Linked DNA regions of Homo sapiens: regions 2, 3 and 4 are each reported to be linked to region 1. The links are microRNA targets in miRTarBase. Many come from high-throughput screens and were not tested one by one. Region 1 holds a microRNA gene; each other region holds the end of a gene's coding sequence.
The links. The annotated mature microRNA hsa-miR-92b-3p reads UAUUGCACUCGUCCCGGCCUCC and lies in region 1 at 1,378-1,399, opposite strand. An mRNA with a match to its seed (bases 2 to 7 or 8) in the 3' UTR can be bound and repressed. Matches are read on the target gene's strand: a 7mer-m8 pairs with bases 2 to 8, a 7mer-A1 pairs with bases 2 to 7 and ends in A, and an 8mer does both.

Region 2: miRTarBase lists ABR as a target of hsa-miR-92b-3p. Seed matches in the 3' UTR shown: 7mer-A1 at 511-517.
Region 3: the mRNA of CARD6 is a reported target of hsa-miR-92b-3p. Seed matches in the 3' UTR shown: 7mer-m8 at 3,723-3,729.
Region 4: miRTarBase lists TRIM36 as a target of hsa-miR-92b-3p. Seed matches in the 3' UTR shown: 7mer-A1 at 2,498-2,504 and 7mer-m8 at 2,378-2,384.

What each region holds. Positions count from the first base shown.
Region 1 is chr1:155,193,636-155,196,635 of GRCh38, reverse strand. It overlaps MIR92B (microRNA 92b), which reads right to left and starts at 1,459; the gene lies at 1,364-1,459. It overlaps THBS3 (thrombospondin 3), which reads left to right. Exons shown (of 23, transcript NM_007112.5): 22 at 510-649; 23 at 737-1,048. The coding sequence ends at 795. THBS3-AS1 (THBS3 antisense RNA 1) reads right to left here and starts at 1,639. Exons shown (of 6, transcript NR_183238.1): 1 at 1,264-1,639. RefSeq lists an enhancer at 1-470 and a silencer at 1,627-1,956.
Region 2 is chr17:1,002,824-1,006,514 of GRCh38, reverse strand. ABR (ABR activator of RhoGEF and GTPase) reads left to right here. Exons shown (of 23, transcript NM_021962.5): 23 at 346-2,996. The coding sequence ends at 435. TIMM22 (translocase of inner mitochondrial membrane 22) reads right to left here. Exons shown (of 4, transcript NM_013337.4): 4 at 2,844-3,691. Among named protein-coding and RNA genes, the nearest start is that of TIMM22, 7.5 kb to the right of the region's middle. RefSeq lists a silencer at 1,272-1,566 and an enhancer at 813-1,571.
Region 3 is chr5:40,852,660-40,858,370 of GRCh38, reverse strand. CARD6 (caspase recruitment domain family member 6) reads right to left here. Exons shown (of 3, transcript NM_032587.4): 3 at 3,017-5,711. The coding sequence ends at 3,925. Among named protein-coding and RNA genes, the nearest start is that of CARD6, 14 kb to the right of the region's middle.
Region 4 is chr5:115,122,441-115,128,151 of GRCh38, forward strand. It overlaps TRIM36 (tripartite motif containing 36), which reads right to left. Exons shown (of 10, transcript NM_001300759.2): 10 at 2,332-4,417. The coding sequence ends at 4,063. Among named protein-coding and RNA genes, the nearest start is that of TRIM36, 45 kb to the right of the region's middle.

The DNA.
Region 1 (3,000 bases):
CACTTTGTCCACAACTTTGCATTTCTCTCCAACAAGTAGCCCTAGTTGGTGGAGATGAACAGGAAGGGAGGGGAAATGGGTCTGCTTAGAGGCTGGACTTTCCATGGCCAAGAGCCCAGAGTCCAGGAACCTGGGTTGGTTCCCCTTTAAGGTGCCTGGGGCTGTGGGGTGCCAGGACAGGGGATAAAAGGGGGTGGACTAGAGCCTGGGAAGCGGGTGACTTCACCCCCCAGCCCATTGTGCTTATTGTCATGGCAACCCAATCCTCGCTTGGAATGCGGCTGGTGCTTTGAGATGCAAAAGGAGCTGGACAAAGAGCTAGGGGCCCCAGGCCTGAGAAAAGCACCCCCCTTCCCTCTCCTTCCTGCCTCCCTTTCCCTCCCTCCCTTCTCTCTCAGGCCTGGTGAGCTCAAGGGGGGCTGGGGAAAAGCAAGGCCCCAGGCATGGTGGCACAGTGCCCACTGGCACCCTAGCACCAATGGATACTCCTATCCTGGAATCCTGGACAGGGTGAAGCTCTATGAGGGACCCCAGCTTGTGGCGGATTCTGGGGTGATCATTGACACATCCATGCGAGGGGGGCGTCTTGGTGTATTCTGCTTCTCCCAAGAAAACATAATTTGGTCCAATCTCCAGTATCGATGCAATGGTGAGGTGGCTGATTGAGATCAACCTAATCCTTCATGCCTTGTGGGAGAGCCACATCCTCTGACCTTACTTATTTCCCCTTCTTCAGACACAGTGCCTGAGGACTTTGAGCCATTCCGGAGGCAGCTGCTCCAGGGAAGGGTGTGAGGAGGAGGCCACCAGATTCAGAATTCAGAATTTTAGACCCTTTGGCCTTGGGGTCCATCCTGGAGACCCTGAGGTCTAAGCTACAGCCCCTCAGCCAACCACAGACCCTTCTCTGGCTCCCAAAAGGAGTTCAGTCCCAGAGGGGTGGTCACCCCACCCTTCAGGGGATGAGAAGTTTTCAAGGGGTATTACTCAGGCACTAACCCCAGGAAAGATGACAGCACATTGCCATAAAGTTTTGGTTGTTTTCTAAGCCAGTGCAACTGCTTATTTTAGGGATTTTCCGGGATAGGGTGGGGAAGTGGAAGGAATCGGCGAGTAGAAGAGAAAGCCTGGGAGGGTGGAAGTTAGGGATCTAGGGGAAGTTTGGCTGATTTGGGGATGCGGGTGGGGGAGGTGCTGGATGGAGTTAAGTGAAGGATAGGGTGCCTGAGGGAGGATGCCCGAAGTCCTCCCAGACCCACTTACTCACGGTGGCAGCGGCGACACTCCAGTCTATCAAAGATCCGCCGGGATGGAGAGCCAGGAGGGCGGGGGCTGCCCCGCTAGGGGTAGCGGGGAGGCCGGGGGGCCGGGGGGGCCGGAGGCCGGGACGAGTGCAATATTGGCGGGGGAAAAAACAACACTGCACCGCGTCCCGTCCCTCCCGCCCGCCCGGGGCCCGGGATCCCGCTCCCCACCGCCTGAAGCCGGCCCGACCCGGGAACCCGGGGCGCGCTGGGGAGTTGGGTTCACCTTGGAGGCCAGAGAGACTTGGCGCCCGGAAGGCAAAGGGAATGGCAAGGGGGAGGGGGGAGGGAGAACGGGAGTTTGCGGAGTCCCAGAAGGCCGCTTTCCGACGCCCGGGCGTTGCGCGCGCTTGCTCTTTAAGTACTCAGACTGCGCGGCGCGGAGCCGTCGCCATGGTGACGCGTGTCCCAGCAACCGAACTGAATGGCTGTTGCTTGGCAATGCCGGGAGTTGAGGTTTGGGGCCGCCCACCTAGCTACTCGTGTTTTCTCCGGCCTGCGAGTTGGGGGGCTCCCCGCCTCCCCGGCCCGCGCTCCCGGGCGCGCTGACGTCAGATGTCCCCACCCCGCCCAGCGCCTGCCCCAGGGTCTCGCCGCACACAAAGCTGCGCCTCGGGCGCCGCGCGGCGCGCGGGCGAGAGCTGTGGTCTCTCGCCTGCTGATCTGATGCGCTCCAATCCCGTGCCTCGCCGAAGTGTTTTTAAAGTGTTCTTTCCAACCTGTGTCTTTGGGGCTGAGAACTGTTTTCTGAATACAGGCGGAACTGCTTCCGTCGGCCTAGAGCGCAGCCTGCGACTGCGGGACCCAAGTTCCACGTGCTGCCGCGGCCTGGGATAGCTTCCTCCCCTCGTGCACTGCTGCCGCACACACCTCTTGGCTGTCGCGCATTACGCACCTCACGTGTGCTTTTGCCCCCCGCTACGTGCCTACCTGTCCCCAATACCACTCTGCTCCCCAAAGGATAGTTCTGTGTCCGTAAATCCCATTCTGTCACCCCACCTACTCTCTGCCCCCCCCTTTTTTGTTTTGAGACGGAGTCTTGCTCTGTCGCCCAGGCTGGAGTGCAATGGCGCGATCTCGGCTCACTGCAACCTCCGCCTCCCGGGTTCAAGCGATTCTCCTGCCTCAGCCTCCTGAGTAGCTGGGGTTACAGCGCCCGCCACCACGCTCGGCTAATTTTTGTAGTTTTTAGTAGAGACGAGGTTTCACCATCTTGGCCAGGCTGGTCTTGAACCCCTGACCTTGTGATCCACTCGCCTCGGCCTTCCAAAGTGTTGGGATTACGGGCGTGAGCCACCGTGCCACGCCCGATCTGCCTCTTAAGTACATAACGGCCCACACAGAACGTGTCCAACTCCCCCGCCCACGTTCCAACGTCCTCTCCCACATACCTCGGTGCCCCTTCCACATACCTCAGGACCCCACCCGCTTAGCTCCATTTCCTCCAGACGCCACCACCACGCGTCCCGGAGTGCCCCCTCCTAAAGCTCCCAGCCGTCCACCATGCTGTGCGTTCCTCCCTCCCTGGCCACGGCAGTGACCCTTCTCTCCCGGGCCCTGCTTCCCTCTCGCGGGCTCTCGCTGCCTCACTTAGGCAGCGCTGCCCTTACTCCTCTCCGCCCGGTCCGAGCGGCCCCTCAGCTTGCGCGGCCCAGCCCCGCAAGGCTCCCGGTGACCACTAGAGGGCGGGAGGAGC
Region 2 (3,691 bases), not on the chromosome of region 1:
GGGGAGATGCTGGGCCCTTGTCCTCATGGGTGGAAGCTCTGAGGTTGCTTCCAAGGGCGGGAGGCTTCCCTGGGATTCCTGCAAGACCCAGAGCAGGGGCCGGACTGTGGCCGCCTCAGGACAGAGCAGAAGCTTATGGCCAGGTTGGGGAAGTGGCCCTAGGCCCCCGACCCTCTGCCCCGTAGCACCTTCCACGGCTGCAGAAAGGCAAACACACCTGGGCTCCCCAGGAAGGGGCGGTGGCCGGAGCCAGTCTAGGGAGTGGGAGGGGCAACACAGGCTGGAGTCAGCAAGGACGAGGCCTAGGACAGGGAGCCCAGCCTCCGCCTTCCTGTCTCCCCACAGGTCCAGGTCCTCCTCTACTACCTGCAGCACCCCCCCATTTCCTTCGCAGAACTCAAGCGGAACACACTGTACTTCTCCACCGACGTGTAGCCCGAGGCAGGGTGGCTGCGGGCGGGTGGTGGAACCAGCCCCTCCAGCCTGGGGTCCAACTCAGACTTGAAAGACTGCAATAGAAAACTCCCAAACCCAGCACTCCAGACTCGAGGGAAGCCAGCTTCCAAGAACTGGAATGCGTACGTCTTTTGTGCCACCTTGTACAAAGCCGGCTGCCCAGCCCCAGCCTCACCACCGCATCCCACCTCCTGCCCTCCATACCTCTAGTTGTGTCTGATGCTCCGTGCTGTTCGGGAATTGTTTTATGTACACTTGTCAGGCAGAAAAGGTAGTGACCGGCCCGGCGTGGGCACACAGACAGCCCGCTTTGTTCTTTCATTTCCTCCAGCACTTTCTTTCCGCCTGAGTCCAGCCCAAGGCCTTTTATTTTGCGCTGTGTAACTGCTGCCAGCTTCTCTCTTGGCCCTGCTCCCAGATGGCGGTCTCCTGGCAGCCTCCCCTCAGTCTTCCTCCACCCGCTCTTCCTTCCCAGCCTGCCTGCATGCATGTGCACCCTTGGTCTTCGCTCCATCGCCTTGAAAGCTCTGAAGAGGCCCTGGGTTGCCGCGGCAGCAGTGGTCTGTTTGATGCTGCCGTTTGCCGCTGCCGGCCCCTCCTCAGACTCCGCCTTTGGGAGCACACCTGCTTTGCCTTGCTGCCTGTGCAAATGTTGGACAAGCAGACACACTCACACTCGTCCCCAGCTTAGCACAGAGCTGGAGCGCCCATTTCTGGAATTTTCCGTTTGGGAATCTCCACTTCTGGGGTTTACCTGTTCGGCCTCCTGTCTATCAGTGAGGCATCTCTGACTGTTTCTTCTACTGCTTTTCAGTTCCCTTCCCTGCTGTTCTATTTCCTTTGAGTGTAAAGACTCACAGGTGACCTGCTATCGAGATAGCCAGAGGGTCAGGAGAGAATGGGGGAGGAGGCGGTCAGGCTGCTGAGGAAACACCACAGGCTGAACGGGGGAGGAATGCACATGCCACGCTGGGTGTCCCGGGTCGCGGGGAGGCAGCTCAGCTCTTAGGAGCAAGTTGTGGGGGCTTTTCAAGAGGGGCCAGGCTTCCTGGAGGGTGACTGATGTGGCCGAAGCAGGTGTCCAGGCAGGTAGGCTGCAGCCAGGAGCTCCCTGGCACCGCAGGACCTCGTGGTACTCTTGCCTTAGATTTTACACACACTCCACAGCCAAGCACTGCCACGGTCCTCCAGGACCTGGGAAGCAAAGGCACAGGCCCACGGTGGCCAGCCATTGTGGTGCCGCCCCAGCTTCTGGATACAGCCTTTTGGGTAAACACTGGGAACTCCAGAAGTTGTGGGGAGAGTGGGGAATCAGACAGCCGCCTCTAGGGGCTGGGTTCTGCTGGGGCCTCCTTGTTGGTGCTGTAGGCACCCGCCAGGGAGCAGGGACCCGACTTGCAGACGCATTGCCCGGTACTAGGAAGGAGTGAGGTGTGTTCCCACCGTACACTTCCCACACGAGCTGCGGCTGCCAGCCTCGGGCCATCAGCCTAGGAGAGCAGATGCAGCTCCAGGGGCTCGACTTATAGCCAGTTACAGCTCCCCGGCTCTTCTGTGTGGCAGAGCGTCGTTTCCGGGCCCTCAGGGCTGGGGAGCTCAGTTCCCATTGCTTGTGCTCAGGGCTGAGTCTTAAAGAAGGGTTTGCCGGCCCTAACGCTGCAGCGCGTGCGCGGTGAGAGGCCCTTTTTGAGCCTGTTTACTCCTGTGGCCTTGGGCAGAACAGTAAATACTCTGTGCACGGAGGAAAGACATGCCCAAGAGGAAGGAAGTACTGACCATCGGCTGCCTGTGAGCAGCTTAGCAAGGAGCCCTTGCTCCCTGGGAAAGGCGGTGAACTTGAGTCTAAAGATGCAGTGCCTGGCCCTTCCTAAGGTCCCTGCCTGGCATCCGAGTGTCGGTGTGTGGCACAGAAGGCTCCTGCTTGCTTCCAAAGTGATGGACAGGAAGGGGCAGAGTGAGTCACGGCCCAGACTGGGCACCTTCGCGTCTCAGCCTCAGGGAGCCCCACAGCCCCAAGCTCGCTGAGGCAACGTGAGAACAGGCTATGGGAAGGCTGCAAAGGCTGAGAAATGCAAAGGCTCATATTTATAAATCCCACCCCCAGAGTGGGGAGGGTCAGGTGCCAGACCTGGACTAAACTGCACCAAGGAAACACCCAGCAGGGTCTCCTGTGAGCCGGGGACCATGCAGCCCGAAACCTCCAGTCACTGCGCCCGGCAGGAGTCAGGAGCCAGGGACTGTGCAGCCTGGAACCTCCAGTCACTGTGCCCAGCAGGGTGGGCTGTGCCCAGCAGGAGTCAGGCTAAGAAACGCCAGGTCTGCCTGTTCTTGCTGGGCAATGGCTGATGGCTGCCAGTTTCTGCTGATACACAGGTAGGATGGGACCCTTCATGAATATCTGACTTTAATAAGTTGGTAAGGATATATTTTTTTGTCTATGTTCTGTTTCAACTTATGTAGATTATTATAAATTGATGTAAACCACGTGAGAGGAAAATGTTAATAAAAAATGCAAAGCCCCATCATTTGCACAAAACTCAGCCCTGTGGTGTGGATGTTTGTGTTCGCGGTGGTCCAGGGAAGCCACCAATGTAAATATTTAACTCTTCCAGCTGCATCCAGATGTGAGTTTCCAGGAATCTGTTTACCTAGTTCACTCCCCTTGAGCCTCCCTGTGGCCCACGGGGGCTGGGGCAGAGCTGCGGGGAGGTGGGCTGGAGCCCTCTCCTTGCTCTTCACAAAGGCCTCCGGATCAGCCAGCATCCAGGCTGCTTCTGGCTCACCTTTGCCATGTGCTGCTACAGTACAAATGTCCCACCTGGCCATCGGTGTGCCTTGAAAGTGGCATGAAGTTGTCCACTGAACAGGAAGCGTCTTCTTTTATGTAAACGCTTCTCTACGCTTTCCTTCAAAGTGGCATATCTTTGAGGCAGCCTTTTGGTCTAATCTGCTTGTCAGAGAAGCTGGGTCTCCGAGGGCCCACCCTCCCTTTGAGAGAGTCAGTGGCGTGAATATTGGCTCCCACCAGCCGAAGCAACTGGACACTGAGTTTATTCTGAAGATCAGGAACAGATGTCTCTGAAAATTGCTGTTTGGTTTATGAGCTCATACTGGCTCCCCAGCCATCGAAAACAGGAAACTATTCATCTCTCGAGTGAATAGGCAGCGTGGACAATGCCTCGCTTACTGAACCGATGGGTACTGACAGCCCTGGCGCTCATCTTTTCCAAGGCTG
Region 3 (5,711 bases), not on the chromosome of region 1:
TCTGATTGGGTTGGGCCAAGGAGATGCACCAGCAGCCGACCTGAGGTAGGGAGGAGATATTTATTTGCTTCAGGTCACTCACTGTAGCTTGCTGTATCCCTCAACCAACTAGACCTAAGACCATTTCCATACAGCTCTTCTGACTGGGGAAGGCACTTTCTTCTCCTCTCTAGAGTGCTTTTACTGGATCCAGGGTACTGCACTCTCCTTTGCATTTTCTTTCCCTTTATCTTGTTCAGCCCTTTAGAAATACTTCCTTTAGGGCCAGGCATGGTGGCTCACACCTGTAATCCCAGCACTTTGGGAGGCCAAGGCGGGCAGATCACTTGAGGTCAGGAGTTCAAGACCAGCCCAGCCAACATGGTGAAACCCCATCTCTACTGAGAAACACAAAAATTAGCTGGGCTTGGTGGGGCATGCCTGTAATCCCAGCTACTTGGGAGGCTGAGGCAGGAGAATCACTTGAACCCGGGAGGAGGAGGTTGTAGTGAGCTGAGATTGTGCCACTGCACTCCAAGCCTAGGCAACAGAGAGAGACTCCGTCTCAAAAAAAAAAAAAAAAAAAAAAACATGGACACACTCAATATTGATTGTTTAATACATGCACAAAGGAAAAATATCTGTTGTGATATGATACCATTCTCAAGGATTAATTATTGCTTTTCAAAGACCAGCTCTCATTCATTTGTCAATATGACTTTTTCTTTTTTGATGTACTTGAAGGTACTTTTTTTACATATGAAAGACTATTTGGGGACTACTGTAGTGCTTTAAATTAATATTAATTTTACTAGAGTTGCCAATTCACAAACTGAAGCTATTAAGTTCAATTTATAAATGTTATTATTTTATTCTTAATCTAGTGACTTTTAACAGATACTTTTAAAGTGTCCTTTTATCCATATTTGATGTCATTTACAAACCTAGTTAACTAAATGTGACTTAAATATTTTAAATTTAATACACTATTTTTCCTTAATGCCTCTAACAAGCAGAATTTACCCAAATGTTTAGAATAATATGAATCTAATAAAAGTATAAATTTTGTGAATCTTAAGTTCTCTTTAACATTTCAATGTTTTTTGTAAACTTATCTTTTAACTTAAGAAAATTACAACTCTAAAACTGAAAACTCATTAACATATCACTGGCCATCAGAGAAATGCAAATCAAAACCACAATGAGATACCATCTCACACTGGTTAGAATGGCAATCATTAAAAAGTCAGGAAACAACAGGTGCTGGAGAGGATGTGGAGAAATAGGAACACTTTTACACTGTTGGTGGGACTGTAAACTAGTTCAACTATTGTGGAAGTCAGTGTGGCGATTCCTCAAGGATCTAGAACTAGAAATACCATTTGACCCAGCCATCCCATTACTGGGTATATACCCAAAGGACTATAAATCATGCTGCTATAAAGACACATGCACACGTATGTTTATTGTGGCATTATTCACAATAGCAAAGACTTGGAACCAACCCAAATGTCCAACAATGATAGACTGGATTAAGAAAATGTGGCACATATACACCATGGAATACTATGCAGCCATAAAAAATGATGAGTTCATGTCCTTTGTAGGGACATGGATGAAATTGGAAATCATCATTCTCAGTAAACTATCGCAAGAACAAAAAACCAAACACCGCATATTCTCACTCATAGGTGGGAATTGAACAATGAGATCACAGGGACACAGGAATGGGAATATCACACTCTGGGGACTGTGGTGGGGTGGGGGGAGGGGGGAGGGATGGCATTGGGAGATACACCTAATGCTAGATGACGAGTTAGTGGGTGCAGCGCACCAGTATGGCACATGTATACATATGTAACTAACCTGCACAATGTGCACATGTACCCTAAAACTTAAAGTATAAAAAAAAAAAAGAAAACTCAATAACATTTTAAATTTGAATCATGAGGTATTAGTATATTAATACCAGACCCTCTAATAAGTCCAATTTTCTTAACTATTACAAATATTTAAACTATTGTATTAGTCTGTTTTCACACTGCTATAAAGAACTACCTGAGGCCGTGCACGGTGGCTCACGCCTGTAATCCCAAAACTTTGAGAGGCTGAGGCAGGTAGATCACAAGGTCAGGAGTTCGAGACCAGCCTGGCAAACATGATGAAACCCTGTCTCTACTAAAAATACAAAAATTAGCCAGGCGTGGTGGCAGGCGCCTGTAGTCCCAGCTACTTGGGAGGCTGAGGCAGGAGAATCGCTTGAAGCCAGGAGGCAGAGGTTGCAGTGAGCCAAGATCGGCGTGCGCCACTGCACTCCAGCCTGGGTGACGGAGCAAGACTCCATCTAAAAAAAAAAAAAAGAACTATCTGAGACTGAGTAATTTATAAAGGAAAGAAGTTATTGACTCACAGATCTGCATGGCTGGGGAGGCCTCAGGAAACACAATCATGATGGAAGGTGAAGAGGAAGCAAGGTATGTCTTACGTGGCGACAGAAGACAGAGAGAACAAGGGGGTAAGTGGCACACTTTTAAACCATCAGATCTCGGCTGGACTTGGTGGCTCATGTCTGTGATCCCAGCAGTATGGGAGGCCAAGGTAGGTGGATTACTTGCGATCAGGAGTCTGAGACCAGCCTGGCCAACATGGTGAAACTGCATCTCTACTAAATACAAAAATTAGCTAAGTGTGGTGGCAGACACCTGTAATCCCAGCTACTTGGGAGGATGAGGCAGGAAAATTGCTTGAACCTGGGAGGTAGAGGTTGCAATGAGCCAAGTTCATGTCACTGCACTCCAGCCTCGGTGACAGAGCGAGATTCCATCTCAAAAAAATAAAAATAAATCATCAGATCTCGTGAGAACTCACTCACTATCACAGGAACAGCATGGAGGAAACCGGCCCCATAATCCAATCACCTCCCACCAGGTCCCTGGTCCCTCCTGAGGGACATGGGGATTACAATTCGAGATAAGATTTGGGTGGAGACAGAGCCAAACCATATCAAATATGAAACAAACATAGATCTTTCACAAAGTTAATGCCAAATGATTAATTTTATTGGTTGTTAATTCATTATTTCTACCTATAAGGGTCAAATGAGAGAGTTTTCCCATTCAAGCAAATTGGGGCTATTAGCAGAAGCTAGTTGATTTAACCACACCAAATAAGCAGGGTTATCTGCTCAGTGGCTGATATTGAACCAGAAGCTTTTGACAAAGATACCTCTGGAGCAGCCAACAACTAAGATACTTTCTCAGACACAGAGGCAACTTTCGTCCTATTGTACAGTCACTTTGCAATTAGAGACCCTAACCCCATTCTTCTCCAAGTGGGGTTGTCTCATAGACCCCCATTCCCTGGGTGCAAGTTATACATTATCTAATAATACCCAAGATTGGATTCAATTATCTACTGCTTGATTCTAGTCTTAATTATTTTCATATTTTTCTTCTTGGTTAGGGATATAACACTTACAGATATCTTAAAGATATCCAATTCGGGCTGGGCACTGTGGCTTACACACGTAATCCCAACACTTTGAGAGGCCTAGGTGGGCGGATCACCTGAGGTCGGGAGTTCAAGACCAGCCTGACCAACATGGAGAAACCCTGCCTCTACTAAAAATACAAAATTAGCTGGGTGTGGTGGTGCATGCCTGTAATCCCAGCTACTCGAGAGGCTGAGGCAGGAGAATCACTTTAAGCCAGGAAGCAGAGGTTGCGGTGAGCCGAGATCGTGCCATTGCACTCCAGCCTGGGCAACAAGAGTGAAACTCTGTCTCAAACAAACAAACAAAGATATCCAATTCAGTCATGTATATCTTTCTTTGTTTTACATGCTAATGACAGTAGTCTTTTACTTTCATGGCAACTCTTCTGCTTACTATATGATAGGAATGGCCTGGGTAAAGGATATGCTTTATAGATCTCTGGAGTTAGCTCTTTAATGCTTCCCTCCCCTCTTCTGCCCTGCTTTTGAGTGGTGTGCCTTAGCTTGTGAAGGATTGGTTGAGGATGACTTAGGTTGAGGGGGTCTGGGCTGAGAAGGCTTAGACTGGGGAGGCCAGGGCTGGCTTGGCTTAGGCTGAGTAGATTTGCATGGAGAAGGTTTAGTTTGGGAGGGCTGGGACTGACAGGATTTTGTCTGAGAGGATTTAGGTTGAGAGGGCACAGAATGGAAGGGTTTAGGCTGGGAGTGTTTGACTGTGGATGGGTTGGACTGATCGGATTTGAACTGAGAGCTCTTGCACATGGGATGGGACCCTATTTGGAGAGCTGGATTTGAAGCCCCACCTTGTGTCTTCATCTGGACTCCTTGCTGAGAAGCAGGTCTTAGTTTTTGTGTGGCTGCTGCTGGTTGAAAGGACTGAGGGTGAGGCTTTCCAATATGGGATGTTCTTATCAGTTTTCCAGTTGCTTCAGTTAACTCTGTTACCCTGGTGCAAGCTTGCTGAGGCCATGGCTTCCCTACTGCTCTTGCTGGCTGTGAATCCAGGGAATAGGAGTGACCTATCTTGGAGGCTACTGCCCTAGACCTTTCAAGAGTTCCCATCATTTGTGGTCTCTCAGGGCAGGCCTGTACATGCTGACAAATGGGTCTTGGCAGTCTCCCAAATGTTCCATTCGAGTGACATCCCCGAGCAACTCTGGAAAATTTCATGAATCTTTCACCTGAATAAAATATCTGGGGATGGAAGGATTGAATACCAAAACTTTTACCTCGGCCCTGGGCCCCTGCATTCTGAAAAGGCAAAGGATGGAACCACTTAGGCCTCTGCTCTGACCCAAAGGGGCGGCCCATAACCCAGGAGGCTTTCAAGGAAACATGGTTAAAGTTACCTCCAATTCTGGTTGGAAAGAGCCAGGAGTTCTCTAGAACAGGCCTGAATACTGGGGTACCATAGAGATTCTGAAGATTCTGGCTGAGCTCACATTGAGTCCCAGGCTCTTGAATTGGCATTAGAGCCTGGCTTTTAGATGAGCTTTTTAGCTGACTGTGTCTTTGCTGACCCTCACCTTCAGCTGTCCCAGCCATGTTTTCTCCAGAGGAAACTTGAATTCTCTGAGTGTTTTCAAAGTCTTCATCTACCTGAATCCCCAGCTCCCTGGCCAGGGCGGCCATATCCTCCACAGACACACATCTGAGGCAAGAAGAGAACATCACTTCCTGGAGGGCAGCTTGAAGGCCCTCCATGTTCTTCCTTCTATCCCCAGCATCTCCCCTCTCCCAAAACAGTAGCTGTGCTGGCTTCAAGTTCAGTATCCTCTGAAAAATTTGAGCCTCTTCACTCTCCCTGGCTTGGGAACTGAGAACAAAGTAGCATCTTTCAATGGCAGCCTCTCCTAAAAACATTAGCAAGTCCCATTCCTTCTCACCTAAACAGTCAGTGAAAAAAAACACAGCTGAAGAAACTTCCATCAAAAAACCAAACTGAGTCCAAAAGCTTTCTAGATTTCCACGGAGATTAGCCAGAGCAACAGGCTTTTGGAAAAAGGGGTTTTCCTTTCTATCATCGCTATCAGGAAAACACCATGTTATCTCAACCAGGCCATCAGAGATTTGCCGGGGAAGCACCAAAAGAGGCAAATCTTGATGAAGAAAGATTTTGTGTAATTTCAACTGGGCAGGGCTGAGAAGTGTGTTGAGGATTCTGGACTTAGAGAAGCTACAGTATCCTAGACGCACAAAAGAGATGACAGGCATCTTCATGAGAGTCAGAAACTTTTCTG
Region 4 (5,711 bases), not on the chromosome of region 1:
TCAGAGTGAACAGGCAACCTACAGAATGGGAGAAAATTTTTACAATCTACCCACCTGACAAAGGGTTAATATCCAGAATCTACAAAGAACTTAAACAAATTTACAAGAAAAAATCAAACAACCCCATCAAAAAGTGGGCAAAGGATATGAACAGACACTTCTCAAAAGAAGACATTTATGTGGCCAACAGACACATGAAAAAATGCTCATCATCACTCGCCATCTGAGAAATGCAAATCAAAACCACAATGAGATACCATCCCACACCAGTTAGAATGGCAATCATTAAAAAGTCAGGAAACAACAGGTGCTGGAGAGGATGTGGAGAAATAGGAACACTTTTACACTGTTGATGGGACTGTAAACTAGTTCAACCATTGGGGAAGTCAGTGTGGCAATTCCTCAAGGATCTACAACCAGAAATACCATTTGGCCCAGCCATCCCATTACTGGGCATAAACCCAAAGGATTATCAATCATGCTACTATAAAGAAACATGCACACGTATGTTTATTGTGGCACTATTCACAATAGCAAGGACTGGGAACCAACCCAAATGTCCATCAATGATAGACTGGATAAAGAAAATGTGGCACATATACACCATGGAATACTATGCAGCCATTAAAAAAGGATGAGTTCATGTCCTTTGTAGGGACATGGATGAAGCTGGAATCCATCATTCTGAGCAAACTATCGCAAGGACAGAAAACCAAACACCACATGTTCTCACTCATAGGTGGGAAATGCACAATGAGAACACTTGGACACAGGGTGGGGAACATCACATACCGGGGCCTGTTGTGGGGTGTGGGGGAGGGGAGAGGGATAGCATTAGGAGATATACATAACGTAAATGATGAGTTAATGGGTGCAGCACACCAACATGGCACATGTAAACATATGTAACAAACCTGCGTGTTGTGCGTATGTACCCTAGAACTTAAAGTATAATAAAATAAAATAAAATAAAATAATTCAATAATTGGTTATTGTGCCAAAAAATACTTCCCTGTCAGTGAAACTGAATAGTTCTGGAGAAATATGCTTTCTCAACTATACACCCATCAACCAGAAGAACCCATGCTTGGTTTTAAAGTTAAGGATAGGTTTACTTTTTATTACTCTTTTGTTTGGTTCGAATATTTCCAGTGATTTCCAGGTCAAATGTTTACTTTGTTCATCACCATAAAAAAATTCCAAGACACATAGATTACACCAGGGCAGTCTTCTAGTCATCTAGAAATCAAATACTGAAACCCTAGGGAATCTGGTTCCATTCTTAGGCTTTATGTCCCATGTTGAATCCTAACAGCATTTGAAAGCCTACTATGTGCAAAACATTATAGGTTGTTAATAACTGCAATAGTAACATTGCATGTAAAAATATTACAAACTTCAGTGGACATCATGCACTATGGATACATATTCTACTAGAAGGAAGGATGTTTTCATATTCTCTTGCATAAACTTGCTGCTCTAGCCTATGGACAGATTATTTCATCTTAAAAGATAATTAAAACAGAAAAAAAAAATAATGGAATGTTTATAAACATATGCAATTGCCAATATGGTTTGTTGTTTTATTTTATGTTTGTTTTTTTTCCACAGGAGAGCAGAAGAAAAACTTATGGTTCATAAATGCTTAATCAAGTGTCGTTGATTCTCTAAAATTTCTCCTCAAAGATGCCTGGCAAAGTATCTCCAAGAGCTTTTAGCATTCTATAATCACGCATTCTGATTTGTTGCACAAAGGGAAAAATAAAATCTAGAATTGCTTAGACGGTAGAACTATTTACAGTATTTTATAAAACTGGGCTATATTAAGTACAGTGTTACAAGGTGGTTACTATATTGTACTATTTAGTAGATACTTTCTGATGTCTTTTAGTATATAACATTTGGTTTAAAGATGAGTATATTTTGAATATATTAATTATAAACACAGCATTTTGGTATTAAAATGTTGACCCTCAGATCCTTAGTCAAGATATAACTTTTACCATATTTTTCCTTTGGGGATAAAAGAACAAACTTGCACTATTATTATTAGCTTATGTAATAAAAAAATAAAATTTTATATTGTTTTATATTAAAAAAATTTAATATATGAAACAATTGAAGTTTTATGTTAAGCTTCTCTAATAATCACTTTCACAGAAATTAAGCTAATAAATAAATGTTCAAAATGATTTCATATAAAACTGTAGCTCTGAGTTAATATGTACAGCTAATCATCTTTTCATAATCAGTTTGTTTCAACTTTTCATGTAAACATACTAAAAATTCCTGGAATGCAGATCTGAATAATTACACATGAATTCTTTTTAATTTTTTATTAAAAATGAAAGAAACACAGCTAAACAATTTATTTACAATTGCACAAGGTTTGAAACAGCTATCCTATTCCTGTTAAAGCTTCACATTTAAAAATGTCTACATCATATGTGCTTGTACAAGGCTTGAGTATCAACCACAAATGTGACTTTAGCAGCTTTATTGCATAATGATCCACATAACGCTGCATTATTTGCTTAGTTTAGCCTACATCATAAAGTGCTATTCATAGATGGGAAATTAACAGCCTGCTAAACACTGAAGTTCTCCATGATATTTGCTACTTGAGTTGAGGGTAAAAAGCTAATTTAATGCTACCAGCCTGAGTAACAGATTTCCATTAAAAATATAACAACAAGGACAACCAAAAAAAACAGGCCTAAAAGTTTTGGTTACCCTGTTAAAACATGTCAAAAGCATTCCATAAATGATTACTGCTACAATGCATAAAAGTAGTTTCTGAATATTTTAACCTCAAAAAAATAAGTACTTTAAATAAAAACCACCTACTTGAAAGCAACACCTTTCAAAAACAGACACACAATTTAGATAGAATGTAATTCCTCAAATTAAAAGATATTTTAAAGGGTACACAGTCATTGTGATCTTAGTTATCATTTCTAAGTAATTAAATTTGTATTTTTACTTGCTTATATTAGAAATGCTTATTACCAATGAGAAACAGAAAATGCCACATAAGTGAACATTTAAATGTTACAAAAATTTATAATATATGTAACGCTACTAAAATATATAATGAACTTTTCAAACATGTAAATATAAATCAGGAAAACCTGATATGTAATAATTGGGCCAAAAATGAAAATCACAAAACACAGTAAGGGGGTAAAAGAATAAATATGACTTTTAATATCAGTCCATCTTTACCAATATATCTGAAAAATAATTCTTTGACATAAGAACAAATATTTTCACAGAATAAGAAAAACTAAAGATAAATTTCTCTGAAAAAAAGTATATAAAGTGAGAAGTTTAATGTGTTAGCTGAGAACTTTGTGTTTTCTGCAAGAAACCATGCTTACTACCCATGCTGTTAAATGAGTGTTATGGCTAAGCAGACTCTTAAAATGTCCTTAGCAATACAGTTTGTGGTCTTAACAAAACAAAACAGTAGTATTCCTTTTCCAGGCAATATATTTTTAATAGTTACACACTTTAAAATACATAATTTTCCACTTAAATATACTACCACTTTTATGGTGTTTTTCTTTTAACCTATCTAGAACTTTGTTTTCCTATTGAAAACAAATGCAAGACACATTGCTTAGTACTAATTCCTATCCATAAGGCATTTAAAAAATATCTTCTCTTAGGACATAAACATGATATAAAAATGAAAAGTCAAACAGAAGAGAATCATAATAAATACTTTTGTATCCCCCCCACCATAAGGAAAGTGTCAGCAACACCAGCTGACAGAAATAAATTAGATATCCTGTACATAAAGTAAAAGACAGTCCAGTTGCAAAGTTAACCACTTCAGTATTAACTTGGAAAGAACATCTTCACTTTCATCATTTGTGAAAGGCAGAACAACGACATGAAGACACAAGGCTGTTTAGATTTTCTGTATTTCAAGAAGAATCATACTCAAACACAAGTGGGGTGACAGAACACTCAGCGATATGTAATTAGTTACGAAGGTTAACGCTAAGGCATTGCTTTGTTTACAGTTTTTATCCTGAGTCACATCAGATGTTTCAACTACATGTCCTCTTGGTATTCCAGATATTTTGCTGTGATGGGTTCTTCAAGCTGAATTCCTCCACTGCCCATTAATGCAAATGCTGGATACAGTGTATGTGAACAGTCCACTTGGCGTTCATAAAGGCATTTCATCTGATCCATATCATAGAAATCTACTTTGCCTTTATCACAGTCAAGGAAAATCCCAATACTTGTTGGCATAGGGAGAACTCTATTTTCAGGTTCATTAGAAGAAGTAGGTGACTTGGGTATAAAAAATTTCTGCATGCCTATAGTAACTAAGGTAAATGGTTGTGAAGAATCAAAACAGGCATCCTCACTTCCACTGTCATGCCCACTGTCTTGCTCATATCTGAAACATAATACAAAGCATCTGTATCTTCAACAATAGATCTAAGTATCTTCAAAACATTTTCACAGGATAATATACATTGATGTAAAGTTAAAATAGTTTTTACATCAAAAGCTTTCTATTAAAACAAAATCAAAAACATAAAAATGACACATTACAATTTAGAATTATACCACAGACTCAGCCCCAAATTCCCTGTCATTAAACACTGCTTTAGTTATATACAGAAGTGAAACCCTAGAAAATCATTGATAATTTTAGCCTTCCAAAAAGTGAGGGAGCGGGCAGTGATAACTGGTCAAATGTTAAATTTTTATAGCACACAATCATGTACAATCATGTACCACAGAACATTTCAGTGAACAACAGACCTCATATACCACAGTGGTCCCGTAAGACTATAATGAAACTAAAATATTTCAGTTGGGTGCAGTGGCTCATGCCTGTAATCCCAGCACTCTGGGAGGCCAAGGCAGGAGGACCACTTGAGGCCAGGAGTTCCAGACCAACCTGGCCAACATGACAAAACCATATCTCTACTAAAAATCCAAAAATTAGCCAGGCATGGTGGTGTACGCTTGTAGTCTCAGCTACTTGGGAGGCTGAGGCATAAGAATCACTTGAACCCAGGAAGCAGAAGTTGCAGTGGACCGAGATAGCACCACTGCACTGCAGTCCTGGCAACAGAGCGAGACCCTGTCTTAAATAAATAAATTCATTCATTCATTCATTCCTATAGCTTAGTGACGTGGTAGCCACTGTAAGGCTGTAGTGTAACCCATTACATGTTTGTGGTGATACTGGTGTAAACAGTGCTTAAAGTTGTTACATAAAAGTGTAACACATACAATTATGTACATTATGTAATATTTAATAAGTGACTGTTACTGGCTCATGTATTTATTATGCAATGCTTTTATTGTTATTGTAGACTTACTCCTTCTACTTATTTAAAAAAATGTTAACTGTAAAACAGCCTCAGGCAGGCCCTTTAAGGAGGTTTTCCAGAAGGCAGCACTGTTATCCTAGGAAATGACAGCTCCATGTATGTTACTGCCCCAGAAGACCTTCCAGTGGGACAAGACGTGGAAGTGGAAGACGATGATATTGATGATGTTGACCCTGGATAGGCTATTATGTTTGTGTCTTCATTTTTAACAAAAATGCTTAAAATGTTAAAAATTTAAAAAATTAAAAAAAAAAACTTGTAGAACAAGGCTATAAAAAAAATTGGGGGGGGCCAGGAGTGGTAGCTCACGTCTGTAATCCCAGCACTTTGGGAGGCTGAGGAGGG